Regions from separate parts of the Homo sapiens genome. Here regions 2 and 3 are each linked to region 1. Evidence: fine-mapped expression QTL. A gene starts in region 1. Each other region holds a variant in brackets. All regions are shown on one strand. Distances are from middle to middle.

Region 1 (4,170 bases):
AGCAGGCAGCCCAGGGCTACTGGGCTGGCAGTCAGATTCCTAGTAATGGGGGGAGGCTGCCATCCACAAAGCGCGCCACTCTGCACTGACCACCTGCCCTCAGAACAGCCTCTGCGGTGGATGGCATCAAACCAGACCAAGGCCAGGACTCAGGCCTCCGGGGTCACTTCTTGCATCCAGGGTGAGAGTGGAGATGGCGTTTGGGCGCTTGGCCACCTAACAGTGGAGGACCTGACTCTCTCCCTCCCCAGTAAGAAGCCTCAGGGCACACTGGCCCACCCACCACCTTCTTCTGCTGGCTTGGAACCAAAGAACTCCACTGGGGCAGTGGCTGGAGCGGCAGCTGACTGGTGCCTTCAGCAGCCAGGAGGACACTCAGGCCCCCTCCCTGCCCTGGCCCTGCCCTCTCCTCCCACTGGGGTGGGCTCACTCAGGCTGGGCCTGAACGAGGGACGGAGGCACTGGGTGGGGTTCCCTGGCTTGACCTGTGTGGGAGACTAATCTATGCCACCCCAAAACAGATTCTGTGGTCAATTTTGAGATGGCTATTCAGAGCAACCACATACTCAGGAGTTCTGGGAAGCTATCCTTTTGTAAAAGGCTATAAAGGAAATCCACACCATGAAACAGCAGAATGGAGCAGAAGCTCTCTCTGAGGCCCCATTATCTGCCTAGAGGGATCTAGGAACGGTCCCAGGGACACACAAGAGGAGTGCCTGCGGCCTCGCCAGTTCCTCTGAGAGCAGCTCTGAGATCACCTGAGTGATTATCTGCACAACAAGACAACCCTGCACACCTCCCCTCTCCAGCCCCAAGCCCCTGTCCCAATGCCATAAAAACATCAATCATCTGTCTTCTGCAGTCTTCTCTTTGATGAGGTTCCCAATAGGTGTATGGGACAATTTGCATCCCTTTTCTCCAGGTCTGCTGCCCTTTTATTCCAGAGACTAAAATTATCTCTCCTTCAGAGTAGAAGGAGAGTTTAAAACTCCCCTACCCCTGCCACAGCCAAGCCCTGGCTCCCACCGTACCTCCTCCCCTCCACACTCTACCTGAAACAACCACCAGTGGACACTCCCTCCCTCAAACACCTTCAATGACTCCCCACCGCCCAGGCCTCTTTCTTTCCACCCGAAGTGTTTCCTTCTCCAATGCTACACTGGGGAACCACAGACCAGAAAACTCGAAAAATCCTCCAAAAAGCATTTTTTGTTTGTTTGACAGTTTCACCCAGGCTGGAGTACAGTGGGCAATCTCAGCTCACTGCAACCTCCGCCTCCCGGGCTCTAGCGATTCTCCCGCCTCAGTCTCCCAAGTAGGTGGAGTTACAGGCATGCGCCACCACACCCGGCTAATTTTTTGTGTTTTTAGTAGAAACGGGGTTTCATGTTGGCCAGGCTGGTCTCGAACTCCCGACCTCAGGTGACCCACCCGCCTTGGCCTCCCAAAGTTTTGGGATTACAGGCATTAGCCACTGCGCCCGGCCCCCTAAAGCATCTTATTGTTCCATCTGCTCTAGGGGCCGGAAGACACAAGAGAGAGCCCCAGGCACCCAACACTGTTGCATTCAATCCGCTTCCTGTCTTTTCTCTGACATTTTTTCCCAAGCACAGACACTGCCACCCAAATCAAAGCCCATCCCCCAACCACAACCAAAGTCAACAAGGTGGGGGCAGGGAAGGGCCACCACCATGTTTGCACAGCTCCTTCCCCTCCCGCCCTGGACTCCCCCAGGGCCCGGCCCGCCGGCTTGCAGGCAGCCATCCGGGAGGGGTGCCCACCCTGGCCTTGAGCCCCGCGCTCGGGCGACTTCGCCAAGTCGGAAGGACGCTGCGCGGTGCGGTTCAGACGGGGCGATGCCTCCCTCGTAAAAGTTAGGAGTCTGTTTTTGCAACTTCACTTTTCCGTTGTTGCCATTCGTACAGGCGCAGGATTCCCGGGCGGACCTGCAGGCCCGGGTCCGGCTGTCCCCTTCCACTACACCCCCCGTGCCCCGGCCACTTCCCGGGGGCAGCACTGCCGGGGCGCAAAGCCTCCTCCGCGCTCTGCGCTCCGGGGATGTCGCCGGGGTCCCAGGCGTGCCCGCTGCCCCCACCCCGACCCCTCCCGCAGCCGGGGAACAGGGTCAGTGGGCGCCGCGGGCGGGGCTGGACCGGGCACCCCGGCGGCGAAACCGAAACTTGGAGCCGGCAGGAAGAGGCGGCCGGGAGGGGCATCCGGACGCAGGCGCCGCTCCCCGGGACCCGGCCCGCCGGCCCGCGGGGCCCACTGTATCCTAGCCCGCTCCCCGCCCCGGGAGACTCTCCAGGCCCGCTCGCACCTGCGGCCCCCGAGCTCGCCGCCTGCCGCGCGCTGTCGCCCCTCGGGTCACGGGGCCCTGGGCCCCGCCCTGCCCGCCGCCGCCGCCGCCGGCCCCGCCCTGCCCGCCGCCGCCGCCGCCGGCCCCGCCCTGCCCGCCGCCGCCGCCGCCGGCCCCGCCCTGCCCGCCGCCGCCGCCGCCGGCCCCGCCCTGCCCGCCGCCGCCGCCGCCGGCCCCGCCCTGCCCGCCGCCGCCGCCGCCGGCCCCGCCCTGCCCGCCGCCGCCGCCGCCGGCCCCGCCCTGCCCGCCGCCGCCGCCGCCGGCCCCGCCCTGCCCGCCGCCGCCGCCGCCGGCCCCGCCCTGCCCGCCGCCGCCGCCGCCGGCCCCGCCCTGCCCGCCGCCGCCGCCGGCCCCGCGCAGGCGTGTGCGGAATTCCCCGCCGGTGGCGCCTCCCAGTGACTCCGGGCCCCCAGCCCCCGGGAGGCGCCTCGGGCCGCTGCGCGCCGGGTACAGACGCGGGAGGGGCCTCGGTTCCCGCCAGGCGTGGGGCGCATGCGGGTCTCCCGGAAGCCCAGACCCCGGGCAGGCCCGAGCAGCCGAGTGGGGCGGGACAGGCGCGCCCCCCGCCCCGGCGCCCAGCACCTCGGACAGTGTCTGCGGCCGCGCAGAGCCGGCGGCCAGCCTGGGAGCGGCCCAGAGGGCGCCCGGCGGGTGCAGTGGACGTCGTCAGCGCGCCGCGTGGGGGCCTTTGCAGATTAAGGGACCTCCGCGGCCCCGCGCGGAGCGCTCTGTCACTGATGATGGAGGGGCCACGGCGGTCCGCACCATCCCCCGTGCCTCAGTTTTCCCATCTGTGAGGCTCATGGTGTGACCAGGGACCTCCGTTTTAAAATCACCCACTTTCTTTTTCTTCCTTCTCCTCTCACCCCTTCATCCCGTCCCTCTCTGGACACTGCGCCCCTCTGCGCATTCCAGAGGGGACCCTCATCCTGAAACAATTCCCGGCGCGGAACCCCAGCTGAATGCTCCTGCTTGGGGCGGGGGGTCGCCAACAATTAGTCCAACATCCTCGACAGCCACCCCTCCTAACCGACAACTGCCCACGACAGCCATGGGAACAAGACACAGACCCTGCCCTTACCCCACTCCCCACGGTGCCCACGGCAAGTTTCCCTAGAAGAACTCGATGGCAGCCTGGGCAACATAGAGAGACCCCATCTCTACAAAAAAAATCATTTAAAAAAATTAGCTGGGCGTGGTGGTGCACCTGAAGAGGCTGAGGCAAGAGGATCGTTTGAGCCCAGGGAGCTCCAGGCTGCAGTGAGTCGTGATCATACCACTGCACTCCAGCCTGGATGACAAAGTGAGATCTTGCCTCAAAAACTAACAAACACACAAAACCTGAGGATAAATTTTTAATTTTAGGGTGGCACTTTATTTATTGTTTGTTTGTTTTTTGGAGACAGTCTCACTCTATACCCCAGGCTGGAGTGCAGTGGCGTGATCTTGGCTCACTGCAAACTCCACCTCCCAGTTCAAGTGATTCTCATGCCTCAGCCTCCCGAGTAGCTGGGATTACAAGCGCCCGCCACCAAGCCTGGCTAATTTTTGTATTTTTAGTAGAGACGGGGTTTCTCCATGTTGGCCAGGGTGGTCTCAAACTCCTGACCTCAGGTGATCCACCTGCCTTGGCCTCCCAAAGTGCTGGAATTACAGGCATGAGCCACTGCGCCCAGCCAAGGTGACACTTTAGAACGCTAGTTGGGCATCTTCTCGCTTTGCTGGGTCTCCAATTAAAACCTGCTTTTTCCTCCCACCAATCTTGACTGCACCACTGCACTCCAGCCCTGGCGACAGAGTGAGACTTTGTC
Region 2 (4,170 bases), 24 kb before region 1:
AATCTGCCCATCTCGGCCTCCCAAGGTCCTGGGATTACAGGCGCGAACCACCATTCCCAGCTGGTTTTAAAAAATGCTCTGTAGAGGCAGAGTCTCCCATGTTGCTCAGGCTGGTCTCCAACACCTAGGCTCAGGCAATCCTCCCATCTTGGCCTCCCAAAGTGTGGGATTACACGCGTGAGCCACCGTGCCTGGCCTGGTTTTGAACATTAGAAAGCACACACAGGCTTTCCACGTTTTATGCACCTCTATAAAAATATTTCGTACATAAAATTTGAAATGAGAAGGATGAGACTAAAAAATGAGTAGCAGCTCCCACCGCACCCTCAGCAGGCACAGCCAGGCTCAAAGGCACATCCAGGTTCAGGTGTACGGTCCCCATTTTGGAACCAGGACTGCGGCTGGTGGGAGGAGGCTGCCAGGACCCTGGGACCCCACAGGCATCTCCCAGGGGGCAGTACTCAGGGGTGCGTGTGGATCAGGTCAGTACAGGAAAGTGACTTGTAGATCCCCTGAAACCTGGTGGTGTGTGATGAGGGCCCCAAACTGCCAGGCAGCAGGTGTGAACCTGTGCCCACTCCACGCCCCCCACCTCCTGCACCCACATACCTGGGAAGACCTGCACACACTGAGGTGCAGCCCAGGGGCTAATCCACCCTCTCCTCAGCAACTGGTAACAAGGGGATGAGGAAGCGCCACAGGATCCCATCACTGCCACTTCAGGAGCCCCTCGGCTGACGGTCGGCCCCTGTGTGGCCCAAGGAGGAGGCTGCGTTCCCACCCACCCAGGGCATGACGAGGCCGCAGCTGGACAGGGCTGCATCCCAGGGCTTCCAGGAGGCCAGGCCGACACTGCAACCCCTTCTCTATCACACATGGCCACACTTCCTGCCAGAACCAGGGCCAGAAATTCCGATTTTCTCCTCCTTTTTAAATTCAGAGGAAACCCATGCTCAGTGTACACAAAGCACAGGAGGCGCCCCCACCCCCCGACCCTCCGACCCATAACATCTCCCCAGGCCACAGCTTGGCTCCAGCCTCCCGCTCGGCCTGCGTCCAACACCGGCCTGCGTCCGACACCAACCCCAGGCCACCAACCCACCACACCGCTGAGAGCACCTGGTCCCATTCCAGGGAGCAAGCACCACTGCTGAAATGGCACACTTGGTGCGTTTGGGTGTGGACAGAGGAGACTCACTCCCAGCGCAGGCTGACTCTAAAACAGGGCCTCACTGAGATCTGGCCACTGCACTCCAGCCTGGGCGACAGAGTGAGACTCCATCTCAAAAATAAAACAATAGGTCAGGTGCGGTGGCTCAGGCCTGTAATCCTAGCACTTTGGGAGGCCGAGGCAGGCGGATCACTGGAGGTCAGGAGTTCGCCACCAGCCTGGCCAACATGGTGAGATCCTCCCCATCTCTACTAAAAACACAAAAAATTAGCTGGGCGTGGTGGCAGGCACCTGCAATCCCAGCTACTTGGGAGGCTGAAGCAGGAGAATTGCTTGAACCCGGGAGGCAGAGGCTGCGGTCAGCCGATATTACGCAACTGCACTCCAGCCTGAGCAATAGAGCAAGACTCCATCTCACAAAAAAAAAAAA[G/AG]CAACTGCAGAAGCAGCTGCAGAAGAAGAGTCTGGGGCTGGGGCCCAGCACTGTAGAGTGGCGTCATCAGCAGGTATCAGCCTCTGAATGACAGGCTGGTCAGCTGCCGGGGGACCTGCTGAGAGGGGGAAGCAAGAGGCCGTCAAGAAACAGGCAGGTGCTGCACAACCCTTCACTGCAGGCACCCATCGTCCTCAGTGTGCTGAGGAGACCTGGCAGGTGGGGTCCCAGCCCTGAAGACAGCCTCCCCTCGGAGAGGCGATGACGCCGTCCCTGCCCGGCCAGCTGCCTGGTACCTCCGGGGCTGCCATGCAGTGGCGTCTGGGCTGGGTTTAGAGGGCCTGCCTGAGTTCCCATCCAGCTCACCCCATGCTACAATGGCTGGGCAACCCCAGGTGGGTCACTGAGCCACCGTGGGCCTCAGTTTCCCCATCTTTAAAGTGGAGACAGCAGATGTGTCCACATCAGAGCATCACTGAGGGTGACCAAATGGGACAAAGCACACGGAGAGTTGTAGGACACTGCCTGGTACACGCAAGGCCCCCATCAGTGATGCTGTGGTCATGGTCACTGTCCACACACAGCAGGTGTTTGTGGCCACCTGGTGACAGCGCTGGATGGCCCATCCTGGGGAATGGTCCCTTGGCTCTCCCTGTTATCGGCTGCATGGTTTGAGTAACATCAGCCTTACTCTAGCCCCAAGGGCAGCTCTTGTGCGTGGGCTGGTGTCAACCACTGATGTCTATCATCCTGGCCATAGGGACCCACTGGGGGATTGGCCTGTGAGCCAATCAGAGCCAATGAGATTTGAGGAAGCGCTTCCTCTCTCCAGAGGAATCAATCACCAGAGGAGGCGCTGTCTTGTCCCCTGAAGGACAGAGTAGCAGGTGGATCACAGGGGAAGCCACTGTGTGGCACGAGGGAGTAACGGGAAACAGCTGATGAGAGGCTCAGTGGGGGAGCCGTCCGGAAGGCAGAGTAGACAGGGCCGGAGACGCCTGCACCAAGCCTCACCTACAGGCTCGGGGCTCATCAGGTGTGTCCATAATAAACTTCCTCAATGGGATTAGAAAGGTGGAGCTGGGCTTTCCATTATTTGCAATTCAAAGGCTTTTTTTTTTTTCTTTTTTTGAGATGGAGTCTCACTCTGTCACCCAGGCTGGAGTGCAGTGGCACAATCTCAGCTCACTGCAACCTCTGTTTCCCGGGTTCATGCCATTCTCCTGCCTCAGCCTCCTGAGTAGCTGGGATTACAGGCACATGCCACCACGCCCAGCTATTTTTGTTTTGTTTTTGTTTTTGTTTTTTTTGAGACGAAGTTTCACTCTTGTTGCCCAGGCTGGAGTGCAATGGCATGATCTGAGCCCATTGCAACCTCCGCCTCCCCAGCTCAGGTGATTATCCTGCCTCAGCCTCCCAAGTAGCTGGGATTACAGGCACCTGCCATCATGCCCGGCTAATTTTTTTTTTTTTGTATTTTTGTACAGATGGGGTTTCACCATGTTGGCCAGGCTGGTCTTGAACTGACCTCAGGTGATCCACCCGCCTCGGCCTCCCAAAGTGCTGGGATTCCAGGCGTGAGCTACTGTGCCCGGCCGTAATTTTCATATTTTTAGTACAGATGGGGTTTCACCATGTTGGCCAGCTAGTCTTGAACTCCTGACCTCAGGTGATCCACCCACCTCGGCCTCCCAAAGTGCTGTGATTACAGGTGTGAGCCACTGTGCCTGGCCATTACCCAAAGATTTCTAATGGTTAAAATAATCAAACCTCAAATTAAGTTTTTCCCTAATTATGAAAGTTGAAAATAAGCCAAGGTCATGGATGCTCTAGCAGCTTCGATGACATAATCAGGCTCTGGCAGAAATAGACGGAGAATCCTGAGGCTCTGGACCGCCGAGTCACAGCCCGGAACAGGAGGAGCCCACTGAGGCAGGCCCCTGACCACCCCCCACCTCCCACCAGCATGGAAGATGCAGGCCCCCTACCGCTTCTTTCCTTGATGTAGCAAAGGGCTCAGACCTTAGGAACAGCTGCCAGCACCCCTCCCCAGGGCCTGCCTTGCAGGAGGGGAGTGGCCAGCCAGGAAGAAACAGCAGCAGCAGCACACGGAGGTTGGGCAGAGCCCGGGGAGGCTGGAGGCAGGAGCCAGGCCTGGCCTCACTCCCTCTGCCCACAACACGGGGCTGTGGAAAGACTGCAGTAAGCGCAGACGCAACTGCAGGAGAGACCCTTGGAGGGACCGTGATCCAGTTCCTGGAAGACCACTGCCCTCAAGCCGCCATCCCAGAACCTCTTTTCAATAGAAACAAAACCAACCATCTGACATCATCACACCTGCAGGGCTGACACCTCGGAGCAGCAGCCCCAGGCTCACCCCCTCAGCTCTTCCCGTGTGAACTGCCACCTGGCCCTGAGTTAGGGACCACTTACTTCTCGGTGAGGACTGGCCGAGTGCCCTGGTAGGCGCCCTGTGCTGCCAGTGCCTCCTGCTGTCTGCTTTTCCATTGAACAGTTTCATAGTCTTCTTTGACCCAGAATCTCGAACTACATAACCATAGCGGTATTT
Region 3 (4,170 bases), 120 kb before region 1:
CAGCCTCCTGAAGTGCTGGGATTACAGGTGTGACCTACCACACCTGGCTTGGACTTTTTTATTTAAAAAAATCTAATCACATAATCTACTTCCAAAGGCTTATTTTTCAAAATCAGATATTGTGCCACAATATACTGAGAGTCACGGCTGATAACACACCAAACCAGTTACAGAATTTCAGAGCTGGGAGCATTCTTGGATAGACTCTATTTCAGCGTCCTCATTTCATGGACAAGGAAGTGATTGAAGCTCAGAAAAATGAAGTGTATGTAACAGTTTTTCTCCCTCCGTATCTCTTATATACATTATTAAATGACGTGTATCAGGCTGGGCACAGTGGCTCATAATCCCAACACTTTGGGAGGCCGAGGCGGGAGGATCGCTTGAGCCCAGGAGTTCAATGTTTATAGTGAGCTATGATCATGTCACTCTGCACTCCAGCCTGGGTAAGAGAGCCAGACATATCTCAACCAAGTAAGTAATACTAATAACTAACTACCACGTGTCAGCTCAACCCACCAGCCTCTTGCTCAGCAAGTACAGATACTGTGTATGGAGGGCTCTAGGCTAGATGCTTGGGAATCCAGAGAGGAATAATCAACAGTTCTTCCCCCATGGCGCACAGCCTACACGTGGCTTTTTCCTTTGGCATCTGGACCACACCTCCTCTGAGGGCTAATAATGCAGCCTGTGGTCCAGGCAACACCTTGCCATTCTATCAAGACAAGGCTCACTGACCCCATGCTGCAGTGGCTAGAAAGAATGGCTAGCAGCAGTTCCCAACCAGTAGCAATTTTCTTTCCTAGGGGACCTTTGTCAATGTCTGGTTTTAGCTGTCACACTGGGAGGAGTGGGTGCTCCTGGCATCCAGGGACTCGAGGTCAGGCATACTGCCAGACAGCCTGCAGTGCACAGGACAGCCCACGCCGCAGAGCCACGTCCACAGTGCTGAGTCTGAGAAGCCCTGGGCTAGAAACCCTTAGCGCCATTGGCATTGCCCTGCTCAGAGCACCCTGGGCAGTCCTCGGTGAGCCTGTGCTCTCCTGGAAGGCCGAGAGCCTCACTCTCCTGACCCACGATCCCCCTCCTCCAACCCAGGAGTGCACGCCACCCCTCAAACCCTATCTTAAATACCAAGACTCACCTCTCCCACGGAGCAAGGATGGCCGTTGGGACAAGCTGTGAAGAGAACAGGACACACATTGGCTAATGAGGTTTCACCCAATGACCCACATTGAAAAGGGAAAGCTAACTCTCTACTCTCTGGCCCTGACCACAATATGAGAATGACTGTCCAGAGCATCCCACGCTAATTTGTTAAGTTACATGACACCTGCCTGAAGCTTAATAAATGTATGTTGTCAGTGAAAAATGTCTGAGTCTAATTTTATTAATTTTATCAAGTAAAGAGCAATTAGAATATAGGCCCATACCAGGGGTACTTTTGGAGGCAAGGTGGACAGGATTCTAGACCTTTCTATTTTCCTTGATTTTTTTTTTTTTGTCATGAGCATATTTTATAACAACTTTAAAAACTAGTTTTAAAATATTTACTCAGGCAACAGCAAAATTTACATGTCATGGGTTATATGAGTCAGTCTCCCGGTTCTATATTTCATATATTTCAGAAGAGCTTTGTGTCAAAAACTTTGTTTTGTGGTGGGCCTTTGAATGCGTCTCTGATGTGGTTCCCAGTCCCTCCCTTCTCCCAAAATGGCATATTCCAGAGAACAGAAGTGCATCACAGAGGGCCTTTTCCACACGACAAAGAAATGAAATGGTTTGGATCATCTAGCCGGCGGAGTGCCAGCTCCTTCAAGCCATTCGTCTTCTGCAGACGCCACCGGTAGAATGCAGGTGGTTTTGGACCCTGAGGCACAAACCACGTGGACCCCAAGTCGAACCCAATGCTTCATAGCATCTGGACACCCTTTGAAGCTCAAAGGAGTGTGGGGTCATCTAGACCCCAACAC[T/C]TACTGTACCAGTGGACTCGCTCCAGACCCTTCCACCTCCGAGCTTGAGCCAGCAAGTCTTCAGGCATGGTTGGAAGAAAAGCATGCTGAAAAACAAGAAGACAGAGACAGCTCTAGATAAGTGAGCTTGTCACCTGGGTGCTGCTGCTCAGCAGGAGGCCTAGAGGAAGAAAGGGAACTCTGCTTTCCTTCTGCTGGACTTCTCAAGCTGTCTGTGAAGAAAACAGAACAGCTTCCTGTGAAATAACAAAGGGCAAGGCAAGTCTGTCACTATCTTGTGTGCTCAAGAATCAGGTGACACAAAGGCAGAGAACTGAGGAGATAAAGATGCTCAAGAGTTCCCACAGCTGCAGCTCGGTCTCTACAGTGACAAGCTCTGGGGGGTGTTCCAGTGAAGGCCGATGGAATTGTGGCCTACTCTTACCGCCATGGTGGCTGGGGAGAAGGCCAGATTCTTTAGGGGCTCCAAGAGTTCATTCTGTCCACACAGAAGGACGGCTGCAGCATGAATGGCCATTTCTGTCACCGTTCCATCAAGGTTGCTGTCACTAGGCCCCGCCCTCAACAATGGCACAGAATTGTCCACGAGCGATGTTGCAAAACGGCTGATATCAGGAGGTGAAAGGATCTTGCATTCGCCAATGAATTTGCTCACAGCTTCACATTGCTGACAGGAAAAAAACTTAACATTAAGATGTATCAAAGAATATTGTGTGAATTGCTCTTAGACATACACTGACACCAAATACACATCAAATATCAAGGTAAATATGGAGAAATCACCACCATTTGAGGGGGAAATTTTTCAGAGAAGAGAATTGTGCATATACAAACACAGCATCCACATACGTAAGCATTAATTTTGATATTCTATTCTGTTAAACATTATCTTATGTTCTTGGCTTTAGTTTTCATTATAATTCTACAAGCTTTGGGTTAAACAGCTTGGTTATGTGTTCCTCCACATAACAAGGTTGAGAACCTCTATCCTAGATAAAAAAATTATGGTATGATTTGTGTTGATAACTTTCATTCTATTCAATAAAATCCCTCCAAATACTGAGACTTTGAACACAGCCCTGCAGGCGGTTACTCACCTCTGGCGTGGGGTGGAGGCTTGCATTGTGGGATCTGTACAAAATAGCCACCTCTCTAAACAGTGTTAACAGGAAGTAGGCTGACTGCTGGCTTTGGGGGGTCTTGCAGGCCTGCAAAATCAAGGGTATCAAGTAAGAATTTAAAAGCTCAACACATCTTTTTTTTTTGAGATGGAGTCTTGCTCTGTCACCCAGGCTGGAGTGCAGTGGCATGATCTCGGCTCACTGCAACCTCTGCCTCTCGGGTTCAAGCGATTCTAACTCAGCCTCCCGAGTAGCTGGGACTACAGGCACACGCAACCATGTCCGGCTAATTCTTTTTTTTTTTCTTTTAGTAGACACGGGGTTTCACCATGTTTGCCAGGCTGGTCTCAAACTCCTGACCTTGTGATCTGCATGCCTCGGCCTCCCAAAGTGCTAGGATTATAGGATAGACGCCCCCGCACCGCTGCCTGCCAGATCTACCTAAGGGCCAGAGGCCCACGAAGTTTGCATGTGAAAAGAAACTTTTCACATGCCTCAGCCCTCAACCCACCAAAAGGGAAGGAGCCTTTTCCAGGCCTGGACACCTGGGGTCATGCCCCACATGGGCAGTCTTCTGGCGAGCAACTTTTGGGCTACAAAGTTCCTGAAATACTCTCAGATTAAACTCAACGCATATTTAGCAGCCAGCTTAATGACAGAAGCAACGGAATCACCATCTGTTCTTCTGACTCCTTCACTGGTCTTAGAAACTTCTGAGCAGAAAGAGGATTTTCCATTTCCTCTTTTCCTGGCACAGGGACTCAAAAAGGAAGCAAGACCAGACCAATTTAAAGGTTAGATTCTAAAAACATCTTTATATTTTTTAACTTCCCACACTACACCAACATATGTATTTTTATTAAACACACATGCATATCTGAATTATGAATACATCTAGGTATGAATTTTGCTATTAATAGTTGTGTCAGCATCTTTCTTAGACTGTTTTCCAGCAGGGTCTCAAAGGAAGTAATGGGCATAAATCAAAAGGCGCTGCTGATGGACTTGGCAGATCAGCAAGACACAGCAAATCTGTCAACCCAGCTCAACTGTCATAGCTGTCCTGTTCCAGCCAC

Alleles and levels. Alleles are on the strand shown, and positions count from the first base shown. SD is a standard deviation of normalised expression in the study named. Not every link is listed here.
In carriers of allele G in region 2, the expression in subcutaneous fat of the gene that starts at base 2,371 in region 1 tends to be lower than with AG alone (moderate effect, 0.69 SD a copy in TwinsUK).

The links. PIP is the estimated chance that this variant, and not a neighbour inherited with it, causes the effect. A credible set is the group of variants that fine-mapping cannot tell apart.
Region 2: its variant is the best candidate, but not a certain one, in a credible set for the expression of RNF213 in subcutaneous fat (TwinsUK, PIP 0.71).
Region 3: its variant is the best candidate, but not a certain one, in a credible set for the expression of RNF213 in whole blood (INTERVAL, PIP 0.67).

The regions. Positions count from the first base shown.
Region 1 is chr17:80,259,053-80,263,222 of GRCh38, reverse strand. RNF213 (ring finger protein 213) reads right to left here and starts at 2,371. Exons shown (of 68, transcript NM_001256071.3): 1 at 2,321-2,371. RefSeq lists silencers at 1,494-1,633, 2,014-2,363, 2,643-2,992.
Region 2 is chr17:80,283,106-80,287,275 of GRCh38, reverse strand. All of the region lies in intron 3 of RNF213 (ring finger protein 213), which reads right to left. Among named protein-coding and RNA genes, the nearest start is that of RNF213, 24 kb to the right of the region's middle. RefSeq lists an enhancer at 1,982-2,542. The variant G/AG (reference allele first, on the strand shown) is at 1,602.
Region 3 is chr17:80,374,771-80,378,940 of GRCh38, reverse strand. It overlaps RNF213 (ring finger protein 213), which reads right to left. Exons shown (of 68, transcript NM_001256071.3): 51 at 3,071-3,181; 52 at 2,398-2,640; 53 at 1,978-2,059; 54 at 1,145-1,179. The region is part of intron 1 of RNF213-AS1 (RNF213 antisense RNA 1); the gene reads left to right. Among named protein-coding and RNA genes, the nearest start is that of ENDOV, 38 kb to the left of the region's middle. RefSeq lists a silencer at 2,185-2,385. The variant T/C (reference allele first, on the strand shown) is at 1,974.